2 separate regions of the Homo sapiens genome follow, and region 2 is linked to region 1. The links come from fine-mapping of genetic effects on gene expression. Tissue or cell type: whole blood. Region 1 holds a variant in brackets; the other region holds the start of a gene. All regions are shown on one strand. Distances are from middle to middle.

Region 1 (8,000 bases):
TCACTGTAGAGGCAAAACCCTCTGAGCACTCTTTCTGAACCTCCCTGTATTCTGAGGTTTTCCACTCTGGCTGACAGGAACGGGAACTATTCCTAGCCCTGTAATCCTTTGGGATGGTTCTTTCCCCATGCTCAGGTAGGTTCCTCCCACCCATGCGCTGTGACTCCCTGGGGACCCTTGGGGGAGCTCACTCCCTGTGCAGCTCTCTCCTCTCCGGCGCTTTGTCTGGCACACTCTAGCTGCCCTGGCCTGGCCTCCCCAGCCTCTCAGCCCCATCTCTTGAACATCAGGAGGCTGCTGGGTTCCACCTGGCTTCTCTGCTCTGCACCTAGACTGGAAGCTCCAGGCAGGAAGCTGGGGCAATGGGAGGCGCTCCTGGCTTCGTTTGTATACATTGTATACATTTCTCAGGAATCAGTGTCCTTAGCCTGTTGTCCAGCGGCTGGGAAAGATTGTTTTCTATGTTTTGTTTGCACTTGTAGTTATAGGCAGGAAGGTGACTTAGTCCCTGTTACTCCTATCTTTGCCGGAAGCCCTTGAACTCATAACTCAGTTCTGTGGTAGGAGGAAGTGCATTAAATCAAAAAGCGGTAATCTACTAAATAAGGGATTTCTCTTATGTGTGTAGATGGGAGGCCAAAACATCACTATCTCCTCCATCTGGCCAGACTTTCTGTGCCTAAAAACAGGGCTCACATTCATTAAAGGATTTATTTATTTATTTTTGAGGCAGGGTCTCACTCTGTCAGCCAGGCTGCAGCCTCCACTTCCCAGGCTCAGGTGATTCTCCCACCTCAGCCTCCCGTGTAGCTGGGACTACAGGTGCGCACCACCATGCTCAGCTAATTTTTGATTTTTTTGTAGAGACAGAGTCACATTATGTTGGCCATGCCGGTCTCAAACTCTGGGCTCAAAAGACCTGCCTTGGCCTCCCAAAAGTGCTGGGATTACAGACGTGAACCACCACTCCTGGCCAAAGGATTTTTATTTACTTAGGGTTTTTGGCTGTGGACTGGCTCTTCTTTAGTATTAAAATGATCTAGTTGCATGAATCGCAATCATTTTGTAGATAATAATAATAAAATAGCTAATAGCTCCATGTACTGTCCTAAGAACTTTATATATTCTCTAATTTAGTCTTTAACCAATTCTATGAAGTACTAACTCCATTTTGCACATAAGGCTAGTGAAGCACAGAGAGCTGAAGTATCTTAGCCAAGATTACACAGCTAATAAGTGATGGCCAGGATTGGAATTTGGGGTCTGGCTCCAGTGACTGTGCATTTAATCAACATGCAAAACTGCTTCTGGACAAGTTCTGTTTATCTAGTGAGAGGGCAACTGATACAGGCTCCTTCAGCTTTCAGAACAAGCCTTAGGACCCCATCTCAACCATCTTACTTTCTCTCCAGATTGTCTTTTTTTTTTTTTTTTTTGAGACAGGATCTCCCTGTCACCCAGGTTGGACTGCAGTGGCACGATGATGGCTCACTGCAGCCTTGACCACCCATGCTCAAGTGATCCTCCCACCTCTCAGCCTCCTGAGTAGCTGGGACTACAACAGGCACCACGATGCCTGGCTATTTTTTTTTTACTTTTTGAAGAGGCAGGTTTCTCCACATTGTCCAGGCTGGTCTCAGACTCGTCGGCTCAGGCAGTTGGCCCACCTCCATCTCCCAAAGTACTGGAATTACAGGTGTAAGCCACTGCGCTCGGCCTTCTTTTTCAATGATTGTTTTATTTACATGTGTATGTGTGTATGCCTGGGTCATACATGCTTATGGTTCAGTTTCGCAAGATATAAGAGGATGTTCGGTGAAAACACGTCTCTCATCTGCCTTTCTCCTCTCAAAGCCCCAAGTGTCCTCCCCGCCCCACACCCTCTCTTCAATTTAATTATCTTTCCAGAGGCCGTCTTCACAAATAAAAGCTAGGAATAAATGGCAGCACACAATCCCCTTTCTTCTATACTTTGTCATTTAACAAGTTGGTTTTTTTTTGTTTTTTGTTTTTGAGATGAAATTTCGCTCTTGTCACCCAGGCTGGAGTGCAATGGTGCAATCTTGGCTCACTGCAACCTCCGCCTCCTGGGTTCAAGTGATTCTCCTGCCTCAGCCTCCCAAGTAGCTGGGATTACAGGCGCCTGCCACCATGCCCGGCTAATTTTTCTATTTTTAGTAGAGACGGGGTTTCACCATGTTGGCCAGGCTGGTCTTGAACTCCGCCTGCCTTGGCCTCCCAAAGTGCTGGGATTATAGGCATGAGCCACCACATCCGGCCTTGTGTTTGTATTTTTAAAATAATGGTTGTGGGGCCATGCGCGGTGGCTCGCTCCTGTAATCCCAGCACTTTGGGAGGCCAAGGTGGATGGATCACTTGAGGTCAGGAGTTTGAGACCAGCCTGGTCAACATGGTGAAACCCCGTCTCTACTAAAAATACAAACATTAGATAGGCATGGTGGCAGGTGCCTGTAATCCCAGGTACTTGGGAGGCTGAGGCAGGAGAATTCGCTTGAACCTGGGAGGTGGAGGTTGCGTTGAGCCAAGAGCGACCCACTGCGCTCCAGCCTGGATGACAGAGCGAGACTCCATCTCAATCAATCAATCAATCAATAAAGGTTGTGAACACTATCAGAGGGTCACCTCAGCGAGGAATGACAGTAGCCAGTGCATTTATCTGTTAGTAAACTAAGAAACAAATGACCATAGATTAATTCCTTTTTATTTATGACCTTTTACTCAGTTCGGTCTACAGACTTAATCTGTGCCTGGTCCTAGGGGTAGAAAGGTCTGTGACTTGGTCCCTGCCCCCAGGCAGCTCATCTTCTGGAGGGAGACGCAGCAGAAGTAGCTGCTGTGATGTGGCATGTGCTCTGCTGGAGAAAACTGGATCTTGAAACAAGGAAAAATGTTTCTAGAATGCTCTTAGGACATGCTGCCAAGGACTCTTGATGGTGTTGCACTTGATGGTGAATGCCTTCTGGAAGCAACCCGAGTGGAGGGCAGGGAGTTACTTTTGCTACGGAGCCAGCTCAGAGTGGATTCTGTAAGCTGAGCCTCATCTGGAGCTTGAGTCCGCACCTCCCTGCAGAATTGCCGGGCTTCATGCAGGCAATCAGCTGCCTGTGATTGGAGGGCTGGTGCTGGTAGGGATAATGAACTTGGTAGTGTCGGCAGAGGTGATTGGCCGGGCTCTGCTGCAGTGAGAATGCAGACTGGATGCTCGGGTCCTCGGCTTGGGTGATGAGCGAGGACAGCTGAATAACTGGGAGCTCGAAGTTGCTTGCTGCCTCCGGGAGTGGTCTGCTTGGCTGTCGCGTTTTCCTTTTCTTTTTTTTTTTTTTTAAAAAAAAGCCAAACGTTTGCTCACCATCACCTGCAGAAGTGAGTTTTTATTGAAGAAGCTCCAGCTGCTTTCTCCTTATTGCCGGCAGCCTGGCAAGCCTCCCTTAGAGTGAGCTACTTCTCAGGCCGGGCACGACAGCAGTGCTAGCACATTTGAAAAAGCAGGAAACCGCCCCTGCATGCAGAGCTTCCAGCCTGAGAACCCCAGGCCCGTCCTCCCAGCAGCTGTGTAGCCAGAGAGC[G/C]TTGGTACTGTGGTCACATCCCTCAAAAGTGAACAGTCGCCATCAGAGGCGTTTGGAGGAGACCGTGATGTTGCAGATGCTGTGGCATTTCCTAGCTAGCTTTTTCCCCAGGGCTGGGTGCCACGGCTCCAGAGAGGGGGACGATCGTGAAGTCAGAGGCACCCCAGCCCCTGCCTGGAGAGACCAGATGGCAAGCTTTTTGGGGAAACAGGACGGAAGGGCTGAGGCCACGGAAAAAAGACCCACCATTTTGCTGGTGGTTGGACCTGCAGAGCAGTTTCCTAAGGTAATGTTGGCCTCAAGAGGACCTCCTAGTTTAGGGCCTGGTCTGGGATCATTTTCCTGGGGAAAAAACGAGTGTGGGGAGGAAGGGAGAACTCACAACGTTAGTTCGGGGTTCAGGGAGAAGTGGTAGGCAATGAGGAAGCCCACAAATGCAATCTAAAATCTTTCTGTGGCCCCTGTGAAAGCTGCATTACCCACTGCGAGCACCCCAGTGTGGCTGTTGAGGGAAGGAAGGTTGCAATAGACTTGCCTTAGGATTTGTTAGTTTGGCTGAAGAAAGCCATTTGAAAGTGAGGGGCAGCCTGTGAAAGTGTGCCTTAGCTTATCCGAACAGCTCAGGAAGGGCGAAGCTAAAGGGGCGAGAGAGTGTGCCTCGACCGTGGAACCCAGTTGCTTGGAGCTGTGGGGGTGGTCTTGGCATCCTGAAGGTCACAGTCCCCTTGCCTGGGTCCGACCCATCTCTCCTTTGGGTCTGGGAGGAAGAGTGAAGGCATGAGACTGGGTCCGAGGAGAGGCTGGAGTCATGAGGCGCAGAGGCTGGTGCCCCTCTGGAAATGACTGCGGCCGCTGCGGGTCTGCCAACTGTGGGGTCTTTCATCCTTCCTGAGCCCAGAGCGTGAGTTACCATCCTCACAAGAGCCAAGGTAAGTGGTAGTATCCCCATTTCGTAGATGAAGAAACTGAGGTGCAGAATGGTTACATTATTTGCCCAGGGTTAAACAACTAAAGAGAGGTGGAGCTGAGATTTCACCCCCAAATCCTTGTCCTGTGCTGCCTCGTTTTCCCCTTAGGAAAGCAGTTTTTAAGGAGACTAATGGAGTGCTCAGTATTAGAAAGGAAATTGCCACTTGGCTCAGATTTCTCCTCCCTGCTGTAGGAGTGACCTCGTTCACCTCCTGAGCTTTGGTTATTTTCAATCTTTTTACTTAGGAGAAAAATCAGAGAAGAAAAGGAGATTCTGCCCGTTTGGCACATTATAGATACCACAGAGATGTTAAGATGAATTGCTACATTTAAGAAATAAAAGCTCATTTTGCCTTTGCTACTAGGGACTTTTGATGTAATAACATTTGCAGTCATGTGGGCACTGGGGAGAAGTCTTCGTCTTTGATGGGTTCCTTCTGAGCAAAGCAGTGGGTCTCTCAGAGACTGTTATGCCTGAGATGTCTTTGCTTAATATTCAAAGAGAGGGTGTCACTTTGTACCTTTTGATTGTTTTAGACAAGATTGGAATGGCTGTGGCACTAGCTTTGTGAGGAACTTTTATCTATAGACCTGCTTGCCTTATTACTACCTCGAATGGCCGGCTCCTTTTAAAATCACCTATTTTTGTCTTTAGCAGTTAACTGCTCTATTTTTCAGCATCATACAGTACCCCCTTGCCAGCTCTCCCCCCAGGGACTGCCTAGGATAGGACTGTCTGTTCTGAACAGCTTAGTTCCTGGCCTGCAGAATCAAGAGACCCACACCTTTTACTGGCTGATCCCCAAAAGAGAGACAGTTCAGCTGGCTGCAAACTGGGGGAGCCCCAAGTGGGATATGGGGCAGCTGGTTGGGCTTGAAGCCAGAGAGAAAGCAAATCTGAGAAGCATAGACTCTCAAAGCAGATAGACCAAGAACTGGAGTAACAGGAACATGGATGCAGCCCGCATCCTTTTCCAGAACAGTGCTCTGAAGGTGTTTGGGGTTTGTGATCACTGGCTGATTGGGGCTGGCCTCACCAAATCACAAAAAGGACCTCCAGAATGTTCTGGAAACATTTTTGAAAAGTTCACTTTAGGCCAGGCGCAGTGGCTCATGCCTGTAATCCCAGCACTTTGGGAGTCTGAGGTGGACAGATCACGAGGTCAGGAGTTTGAGACCAGCCTGGCCAATATGGTGAAACCCCGTCTCTACTAAAAATACAAAAATTAGCTGGGCGTGGTGGTGCGTGCCTGTACTCCCAGCTACTCAGGAGGCTGAGACAGGAGAATCGCTTGAATCCAGGAGGCGGAGGTTGCAGTGAGCCAAGATTGTGCCGCTGTACTCCAGCCTGGGTGACAGAGCAAGACTCTGTTTAAAAGAAAAAAAGAAAAGTTCACTTTGGTTCTCGGGCTTCTCAGTGTCCCAGAAGCACTACTTTGTTTTGCTCTCACTTCCCCTGTTTAAATATGTCTGCTAGTGAGTCAGGTTCCTGCAAGCTTTTATTCTAGGAACTGTTCCAGTTTTTCCCTTTATCTTTGTCTTACAGTTAATCTTCAGTTGGAGAAGAAAGCCATTACTCTGGAGTGGGAGGTGCCCTCAGCGGCATTCAAGCTTTCAAATCCTGAGGGGCTGTCTTCTCGGAAGCACAGAGAATTTTGCTTATTGTGTGTGTAACTGCCAAGTGTAGGCAGGTTTCATTGGAAACTGGCTACACTAGGCTGTCATGGCAACCTGATCATCAAATGACACTGTGGCCACAGCCGCCAATGAGGTTTGAGAGCCTTAAGGGTGGGTGGGGCTTGAGCGGCTGGATGCTGGCAAAGCTTCCTCATATTAATATTTCTGGCTCAGCCTGAGTCATTGCAGAGGAGGGGAGAGGAACTTTCTGACCTAATGCTACACTCCCAGAGGCACTGTACCTGCCCTGTTCTTATTCATGGTATTCCGGCCTTTACCTGAAGCACCTGCTTTCTTCTGGCATGTAACATAGTGGTAGAACAAGGAAAGCTTTTGGTGGCATTGGCAGATTTGCTGTGAGAAGATGCTCAGGAGAGGAACTGCTACTTTATAGATTAATTGCAATCTGATGCCACTGAATCCTAAGGGACCTAGTGTTGCTGTCACTGTTTCCGAATACTAGTCATAGGAATGGACATCGGAGGAGCTGAAACAGATGAGGGTCTGTGCCACAAAGTCAGAATAATAAAGAGCAGCGAGGCATCGCACACAATGCGCGTTGTGCCCAGATCTTGGAGTGTCAAGAAGGCCGGTGTGAAGCATCAGGGCTGAAACCCGAGGCCTGCTTTAGTTCCTCCATAATCTAGTTCTCACAGAGGCATTCAGAAGCTGTGACACAAACACCGTTTTTGGTTGTATTTAGCTAGGGCTCAACTTGCTCAAGTTACACCTTTCCCACACACCTGCCGCCTTCCAGTATGAGGTATCACCTACTGTCTGGCTTACCGGCATCCTTTGGGAACTGAATACTAAAATCTGTTTTGGGTGCTGTTTGAAGTGGATGTTGTAACAAGAACCCTGGGTGCAAGGCCCTGCCCTGCCCTTGACAGGCTTTGGGAATTGGGCAAATCAGGTCGCCTCTCCCAGGCCTGTTTGCTCAACTCGGAGATTAAGGGATGATCCCAGAGCCCCTCTGGGCCCCCACAGTCTGCAGTTCCAGGAATACAGCAGTTGTCCTGGACACTAGCACCTAGAGATGGGCTTATTTGGGTAGAACTCTCCATTTTTATATGAACATGGAGTCTTGAGTTACCTGTGAAACTCAGTAGGATGGATGATTTAAAAAACCAAATGCCAATTGAAGTTTATCCAATGAAGACATTCCATGAGACTCAGTCACAGCAGCAAATAAGTTAGAACCCTTTTAAAAATTAGCTGGGTGTGCTCGTGGGCACCTGTAGTCCCAGCTACTCGGGAGGCTGAGGCAGGAGAATCGCTTGAACCCAGGAGGTGGAGGTTGTAGTGAGCCAAGATCGCGCCACTGCACTCCAGCCTGGGCGACAGAGCAAGACTCCATCTTAGGAAAGACAAAGAAAAAAGAAGAAGAATACAGGTTTCACTTTTATTTAGTATCATTTTCAAATCTCAGATTTCTTTTGTTAAATACATTATAAAACTCAATGGTACAGTAATATGTGCCATAATTATTTTTAAAATATACTTTAATAGAAAGTGAAATCTCCAATTGAACTTATTCAGTCAAAATATTTGCTTTTTTATATTAGAATGACTGCAGTCATCACTAAAATGAGATATTCAACAGATCTGTATAATTTAGTTTCAGAAGCAAACAATAATTTAACAAAGGAAGACCAGCATTTTTTTTAATAGGGCAACATCTCATTTTATAAAGTAGAGTGAGCATTCCTAAAGACCAGCATTTTAGGGTTCAGCTTTTATTTATAAATGTGAACCTCCTTTAAAATA
Region 2 (8,000 bases), 24 kb before region 1:
TACAGGCGTGAGCCACCGCGCCTGGCCGGGGTTCAGAATCTTAATCTACTTGGTAATCAAAGGGCCAGCCCTGGATCTGGCAAAAGCAAAGATGTTGATCATAATACTAGCAAAACTTTTAGAGCAACTACTACATGTCAGGCACTTTGTACTCATTAGCTCAACAAATCCTCAAAATGACACCAAGAGGTTGGTGCTGTCATCTTCATTTTTCAGAGATGAGGAAACAGACTGAGAAATGTAGAATGACTTGCTAAGGTCACAGAGCTCATTCAGCAGAGCCAAGAGGCAAACCCAGGTCTCCCCAACAGCAGAGCCCGATGTGCTCCTGACCTCCACGCTGGGCTGCTCCTAGCTAAGAAAGGCACCCCCGGCCGGGCGCGGTGGCTCACGCTTGTAATCCCAGCACTTTGGGAGGCCGAGGTGGGTGGATTACCTGAGGTCAGGAGTTCGAGACCAGCCTGACCAACATGGAGAAACCTCGTCTCTATTAAAAATACAAAATTAGCCGGGCATGGTGGCGCATGCCTGTAATCCCAGCTACTTGGGAGGCTGAGGCAGCAGTGAGCCGAGATCATGCCATTGCACTCCAGCCTGGGCAACAAGAGCAAAACTCCATCTCATAAAAGAAAGAAAGAAAGAAAGGCACCCCAGAGGCTGGGTCACATGCTCTCTGTGGTACCATGCAGCAGGCATCTTGGGTGGGACTCTACACACGCTCTTTGCAGCCACATTAGTCCTACCTCCTTTGATGCTTTCTGCTTTTTTTTTTTTTTTTGAGACGGAGTTTTGCTCTTTTGCCCTGTTACCCAGGTTGGAGTTCAGTGGCACGATCTCGGCTCACTGCAACTTCTGCCTCCCAGGTTCAAGTGATTGTTGTGCCTCAGCCTCCCGAGTAGCTGGGACTACAGTCGCCCACCTCCAAGCCTGGGTAATTTTTGTATTTTTAGTAGAGACAGGGTTTCACCATATTGGCCAGGCTTGTCTCGAACTCCTGACCTCCACTGATCTGCCCACCTCAGCCTCCCAAAGTGCTGGGATTACAGGAGTGAGCCACCATGCCAGCCCTTTGATGCTTTCTTGACTTGACTTCCTAGGCCCCTATGGCGAAGCAGAAAAGGAGGTGGGAATGGGGCAGCAGTAGCTAAAGTACCCAGTCAATGTCTCCCTGTCTGTCATCATCTGGGTCAATCCGATACTTAAACATCCTTCCTGTTCCAGAACAGCATCTGACCTAGACCCGTGTTTGTCCCCCTTACCCCACCCCAGTGTATTCTTGAGAAATACGCATTGTGAGGGGATGGCACTCGCACATCCACCCAACTCCCCCAACCCCCACTGAGAATCACTGAATGATCCAGCTCACGGTCATCACAAACGAGCAGAGGTAACAGGGCACAAACTCTTCTTTGAACTAAAAAATCCAACCAAAGTTAGTTCTGTTGTCATTCCTGAGAACCACGGAAAGGATCCTGGCTGGGCTGTATGGGCCTCCGCGCATGTGGGAGAGGTCAAGCTCCTCCACCCTTCAACGCCAATGTCAGCTATGTGTCCTTATGCCACCAAGAAGCCCCCTTCCTCTTCCGGGGCCTGAGGTTTTCCCAACTGATGGCGAAGCTATTCCTATATGTGTCATCTCTGTCCTACTAGAACATAACTGGCCTGTATTTTAGACAACTTGGTAATCCCAGTGCCCAGCACAGGGTTTGGTACAGAATAAGTGCTAATGTTTGATGAATGAATGAATGAATGAATGGAGTAGATTAACACCAGGAACCATGAGGCTCCTGAGCAGCACCTGATGAAAGATCCCCCACACTGAAAACAGAATCCAGAATCGTTGTCTCACTTGGGCAGTATTATTCCCATCAATTTTTTCAACAAATATGGCCTGGCTGTCTACTACAAGCCGGGCCCTGTGAAAAGTCCTGTGGGGATACAGACACGGTCTCTTGTTTTCAAGGACCACCCAGTTCGGCAAGTGGAGGTAAGTCATGGACAAACATGGTGGCAATGCTCAGTGGCGAGCTATCCAGCACGTCAGAAGTCCAGCCCACGTGCTGAGGAAGTCCCAAAGAGAGCAAGATCACTTCTGTCTGGGTGCTGCTCTTGGAAGGCCTCATGGTCTTCCAAGACCCCCATCTGACCTCTGACCCTTGGCAGCCAACCTTCCCCAGGCCACCCCAGAGCTTGCTGGCCCTTCCCACTTATGCACGCCGCCTGGGCAGGAGAGGTCACTCACTCTGTGTCAGGGTGACCGTGGCTGCGGCTGCGGTGGCCGAGGGTCCGAGGGCCACAGGGTGGATCTCTGTGGTGCTGGGCAGGCTGATGATGGTGGCCTCGCCCAGCAGGTTGCAGATACGTTGTTGCATGGGGGTCAGCAGCACTGGGGCTACAGCTGGGCCACCGCCACCACTGCCACCGCCTGTCCCAGGCCCCCCAGCTCCGTCCTCCTCAGTGGGCCCCGGCGCCTCACCACCCTCCACGGCGGCCCGGACCTGGGCAACCTTGCGACGGACCTCGGTCTTGAGGTCAGACCACTTCTTCTTGACCTCAGGCAGCTCTCTGCGGCAGGTGGCCACGGCGTTGACCCTTCTCAGGATGCCGTGCCAGGCCGCACTCTTGGCGGCCAGGGGTACCCCGGCGTTGAAGTGGTTCACCAGCAGGTGCTTCTTCAGCTCCAGCTCCTCCACGATGATCTCCACCTCCCGCTCTGAGAAGTTCATCTTCCTTTTCTTGGCTGGGACGGCCATGGCCTCTCCCCTCCCCTCTTTTTAAAGAAATTATAATCCCCTCAAGCGCCCCAATTCCCCTTCTCTTCTTCCTCAGCCTCGCCCCTCACCCACCCCCTACAGGGGATAGGCCAGGCTTGCTCGAGGCCAAGCACTAGGCCTTTGGTAACCCCCCTCGCTACGCAAAGTGCGTAGGGCCCAGCCCCGACCGGCCCGGCCGCTGCCAGCCAGCAGCGTAATGGCTTCCTGAATCTGCCTCTTCCGCCGAGGTGTGCGGAGATCCGCCCACTTCCCCTCTTCCCGCCTCCCAGCGCTTCTCCGGGAAAACCGGCCTTCCCGGTTGGTAGCTGCTCAAATATCACGTCGATCACTGGTTCTTTCGATCTGTCGCTCAGCTAAAGAGCACGCCTGCTTACTGTAATTCGCCTGATCATTGGTCTAAAATTGTGTCCGTCGCCCAGAGGGCCCCGCCCACCTAACCTTTATTCACTTCCATTGGAAAATCATTCTGTCGTTCAATTGTCAGTATTACGACTATTAAGCCGTTAAATTCAGCTATTTTATTGGTGGTTTAGGGAGTTAGATTACCAAAACCCTGCTTCCTGAGGATACTTAGTGCTTTCGGCCGTGACCCATGGGTCAATTAACTTTTAATTCCTCCCACCGGCACAAACTCTGCCTCGCAACTGCAGTTCACAAATGCTCTCACACAAATCCTGTTTCCCACTGGAGGCTACGATCTCTCCGTACACTACCGCTCCTCCCATCCTTAAGATCCCGCAGTCTAAACAGAGTTAGTTCATCAATGGAAACTGGACACGGGGCCTTCCGCCTGCCAATCACATTACTCATGCCTATCGCTGCGTGATTTTCTCTCTCTTGGCCCCCGGCTCAGCCAATCCCCGCCTCCCTCAGTTTGAATCGGCCCCAGGCGGAGCCGGGTGACCCCGCCCACCCCATTGATCCGGGTAGTCCGTGGCGCGTGGGCTGTCCTTAGACAGGCTCCGCCCCTCCCTCCTCCCCATCCGAGCCTGTGACTGGCCTTCGGTGCGCCCGGGCGTGGCCGGCGAAGCGGGGCGCGGAGGGGCGGGGCTCCCGGAAGCCGCCCCTTCCGCCAGCTTGCCGGCGTCTCCGAGCCCGCGCTCCCAGCTGCAGAGCGCCTGGCTTGCCTCCCGCGCGGTCACCGCCGGCCCGCCGCCCCCGCTCCCGCCCGCGCCCGGAGCCCCTGCCTCGCGCCCGATGGTGAGCAGTGTGTTGTGCCGCTGTGTGGCCTCCCCGCCGCCGGACGCCGCCGCCACCGCCGCCTCTTCGTCTGCCTCATCGCCGGCGTCCGTGGGGGACCCCTGCGGCGGCGCTATCTGCGGGGGCCCGGACCACCGGCTGCGCCTGTGGAGACTCTTTCAGACGCTCGACGTCAACCGGGACGGCGGCCTGTGTGTCAACGACCTGGCGGTGGGGCTGCGGCGCCTGGGACTGCACCGCACCGAGGGCGAGCTCCAGGTAGGCTGCGCGCGTCCTCAGCACTGGCGGGGAGGGAGCCCCTCGAGGGCCGGGTGACAGGTCTCGGGGGACGGCCCCTTGGGCTGGGCGGAACCCCCACTGTCCAGAGGAAGGGTGCCCCCTGACTCACTGAGGGACACCCCACTTATGCCCTGGTGGGAGCGGGGCTCCTTCCTGACTTCTTTGGGTGCTTGAGCCGGGTTCTTCGTGGACACAGGTGGGCATCCTATGGGCTTTCTGATGGGCGAAAAGCCCTTTCTTGCCCAGAGTAGAAGGCCAGGTCTCAGGAGTGTGCCTTTGTCACCTCCTGACCTCAAGGCCAAGCTGGACGCTCCCTTCACCCAAGGATGGGTTCATCCATCAGTCCCCAGCAGCACCCCCTCCTTTCCCTCTCGTTTCCATGCCAGCCGTGGGCCCTGATCTGGTTCCTCTCAGGAACATGTGGGAGTTGAAAAAAAAATTGGTATTGGGGTTTCAGGCTGATCCGTGTGGACGTTGGCGGCGAAGACTGACAGTTCTCATGGTTTAGGCTCATCTCCATTGCCCTGTTTATCCAGAAAATGGGATCGTGATCCCCGCGGGGTTGGAGTGTGGACGGAGTGAAAGAATCCGGGGGAAATTTTTTTTCTAAAAGTCAAAGCGAGATTGTTACTATTGTGGGCTCTTGGCCGAGGTGTGGGCATAGGGGCGCAGAGAAATGGTCATCCCTGGGCCTGCCAGGAAGAGAAGTGCTGGCCTTTCTGTATGAGAACCTCAGAGCAGAGGCTGTTTCTTTCCCTTCTGTCTCTTCCCCCTTCAGTCTGACTTGGCGGGTGTAGCTGCCATTTTCCCAAGTATTTCATTTACTGTAGCTTAGCCTGATTTACAGCCTGGAATAGGACTCCTGAGTACTTTACCTAAGAACCTGTTTCACTGCTGAGTTAGTTTGGTCCATTTGTACACATGACAATTAGAGAATCTCGTAGCCAAGTATGAAAAGAATCTGGTAAACCGCCAATGAATTAAACCAATTTGTTGGGTGGGTGTACATAGGTGTTGTTAACTCATGTTCAAGATTCTTGGATCAACATCCAAGGTATTTAGCGCTAACTATTAGGATCAGCCTAGGAGGACCAAGAGTAACACTACGCAAGATAGAATGGTTAAGTCCAGGAGATTTAGAGACAAGTTTTTTTTGTTTGTTTGTTTTGAGACGGAGTCTGGTTCTGTCTCCCAGGCTGGAGTGCATTGGTGCAATCTTGGCTCACTGCAGCCTCCGCCTCCTGGGTTCAAGAGATTCTCCCGCCTCAGCCTCCCCAGTAGCTGGGATTACAGGCATGTGCCACCACACCCAGCTAATTTTTTTTTTTTTTTTTTTGAGAGAGTCTCACTCTGTCACCCAGGCTCGAGTGCAGTGGTGCGATCTTGGCTCACTGCAAGCTCCGCCTCCCGGGTTCACGCCATTCTCCTGCCTCAGCCTCCCTAGTAGCTGGGATTACAGGCATGTGCCACCACACCCAGCTAATTTTTTTTTTTTTTTTTTTTTTTTTTGAGACAGTCTCACTCTGTCACCCAGGCTCGAGTGCAGTGGTGCGATCTTGGCTCACTGCAAGCTCCGCCTCCGGGGTTCACGCCATTCTCCTGCCTCAGCCTCCCTAGTAGCTGGGACTACAGGTGCCCGCCACCATGCCCAGCTAATTTTTTTTTTGTTTGAATTTTTAAGAGAGATGGGGTTTCACCGTGTTAGCCAGGATGGTCTTGATCTCCTGACCTTGTGATCCGCCCGCCTCAGCCTCCCAAAGTGCTGGGATTACAGGCATGAGCCACCGCGCCCGGCCACCCAGCTAATTTTTGTATTTTTAGTAGAGATAGGCTTCCACCATGTTGGCCAGGTTGGTCTCGGGCTCCTGACCTCAGGTGATCCACCTGCCTCGGCCTCCCAAAGTGTTGGGATTACAGGCGTGAGCCACCGCACCCGGCTAGAGACAGGTTTTTTTTGTTTTGTTTTGTTTTGTAATGTTTCCAGTCAGTTTTACACAAAATAGTGTTGTGAACTGGAGATTTTCCTGTATGTATCTGATGAATACTCACTTGAAAAGGTAGAATGGCTGGCCGGGCACAGTGGCTTACGCCTGTAATCCCAGCACTTTGGGAGGCCAAGCCGGGTGGATCACCTGAGGTCAGGAGTTTGAGACCAGCCTGACCAATTTGGAGAAAACCCGTCTCTACTAAAAATACAAAATTAACGGGGAGTGGTGGCGCATGCCTGTAATTCCAGTACTCGGGAGGCTGAGGCAGGAGAATCGCTTGAACCCGGGAGGCGGAGATTGCGGTGAGCTGAGATTGCACCATTGCACTCCAGCCTGGGCAACAAGAGTGAAACTCCATCTCAAAAAAAAAAAAAAAAAAAAAAAGAAAGAAAGAAAAGAAAAAATAGGAAGGCTAAACCCAGAGGGTTTCTGTTTCTGCTTTTGTGAACCTACCCACTTGGCATTGCTGCCAGGCACATTGAGAACGTCTGGCTGCGGGAGCATGTTAAATGTCTGCCCCATGCTTTGTGCATCAACTAGAGTCACAATGTTCTCGAGATTCAAGGCACATCTGATATTGATCCTAATCTGTTTTTTTAGTGGTGAATTTCTCGGGGCAAATAAGGAGAAAGTGATCATTTTTCTTTCTGGTTTTGAAAGAAAACTTTTATTAACCAAAGAGAGCCTAGCCCCTTGGGGTCACTTTGACTCTAAAATCTTTGACTCCATGACAGATCTAAGTTCTATGATAGGAAGCATTTCTTTATTCTTTTGGTGTGTGGGTTTAGTATAGAGTGTATTTCATTTATTTATCTATTATTATTATTACTTTTCTGAGATGGAGTTGCACTTTTGTTGCCCAAGCAGGAGTGCAATGGAATGATCTCAGCTCACTGCAACCTTTGCCTCCTGGGTTCAAGTGATTCTCCTGGCTCAGCCTCCCTGGGACTACAGGCACGCACCACCACGCCCTGCTAATTTTTTTTTTTTTTTTGTATTTTTAGTAGAAATGGGGTTTCACCATGTTGGCCAGGCTGGTCTCAAACTCCTGACCTCAGATGATCTGCCCGCCTTGGCCCCCCAAAGCACTGGGATTACAGGCGTGAGCTACCGCGCCTGGCCTATTTATCTATTTTATTTTTTTTTGAGAAGCAGTCCGCTCTGTCGCCCAGGCTGGAGTGCGATGGTGTGATTTCACTGAAACCTCTGCCTCCTGGGTTCAAGCAGTTCTCCTGCCTCAGCTTCCTGAGTAGCTGGGATTACAGGCGCCCGCCACCATGGCCCGGCTAATTTTTGTACTATTAGGAGACAAGGGATTTCACCATGTTGGCCAGGCTGGTCTCGAACTCTTGACCTCAAGTGATCTACCCACCTCGGCCTCCCAAAGTTCAGGGATTACAGGCGCGAGCAACTGCACCAGGCAGTATAGACTGTATTTCTACTACTTTTTTGGCTTTTGAACAAATTCAGTTGTTATACAGCTTTGAGATCAGAAATAATTTATTAGCTCATTACCTGTAAAGGAGCACAAGTTAGTCCTGTGGGGAACGTTTGAAGTCTTGGAGAGAAGATCTGCCTTTTTGTAAATAACTGGGCAACAGGAAGACATCCTGCCTCTTGTACCCCCATACCACTTCCTGTTGAATTAGCATTAGTATTAACTGCCTACAGAAAAAGCAGTGCTGAGGCTTTGCAGAACTAGCAGGAGCCGAAAGAGAACTGTGGGGCCCTTTGGGTCAAAATGGGTCATCTGCCATGG

The links. PIP is the estimated chance that this variant, and not a neighbour inherited with it, causes the effect.
Region 2: SLC25A25 starts here. The variant in region 1 is fine-mapped to the expression of SLC25A25 in whole blood (TOPMed, PIP above 0.99).

The regions. Positions count from the first base shown.
Region 1 is chr9:128,088,217-128,096,216 of GRCh38, forward strand. All of the region lies in intron 1 of SLC25A25 (solute carrier family 25 member 25), which reads left to right. Among named protein-coding and RNA genes, the nearest start is that of SLC25A25, 24 kb to the left of the region's middle. RefSeq lists enhancers at 3,214-3,734, 3,735-4,255. The variant G/C (reference allele first, on the strand shown) is at 3,588.
Region 2 is chr9:128,064,349-128,072,348 of GRCh38, forward strand. It overlaps SLC25A25 (solute carrier family 25 member 25), which reads left to right and starts at 3,884. Exons shown (of 11, transcript NM_001330988.2): 1 at 3,884-4,232. The coding sequence starts at 3,972. It overlaps NAIF1 (nuclear apoptosis inducing factor 1), which reads right to left and starts at 2,972. Exons shown (of 2, transcript NM_197956.4): 1 at 2,243-2,972. The coding sequence starts at 2,753. RefSeq lists enhancers at 2,831-3,160, 4,911-4,990 and a silencer at 3,611-4,180.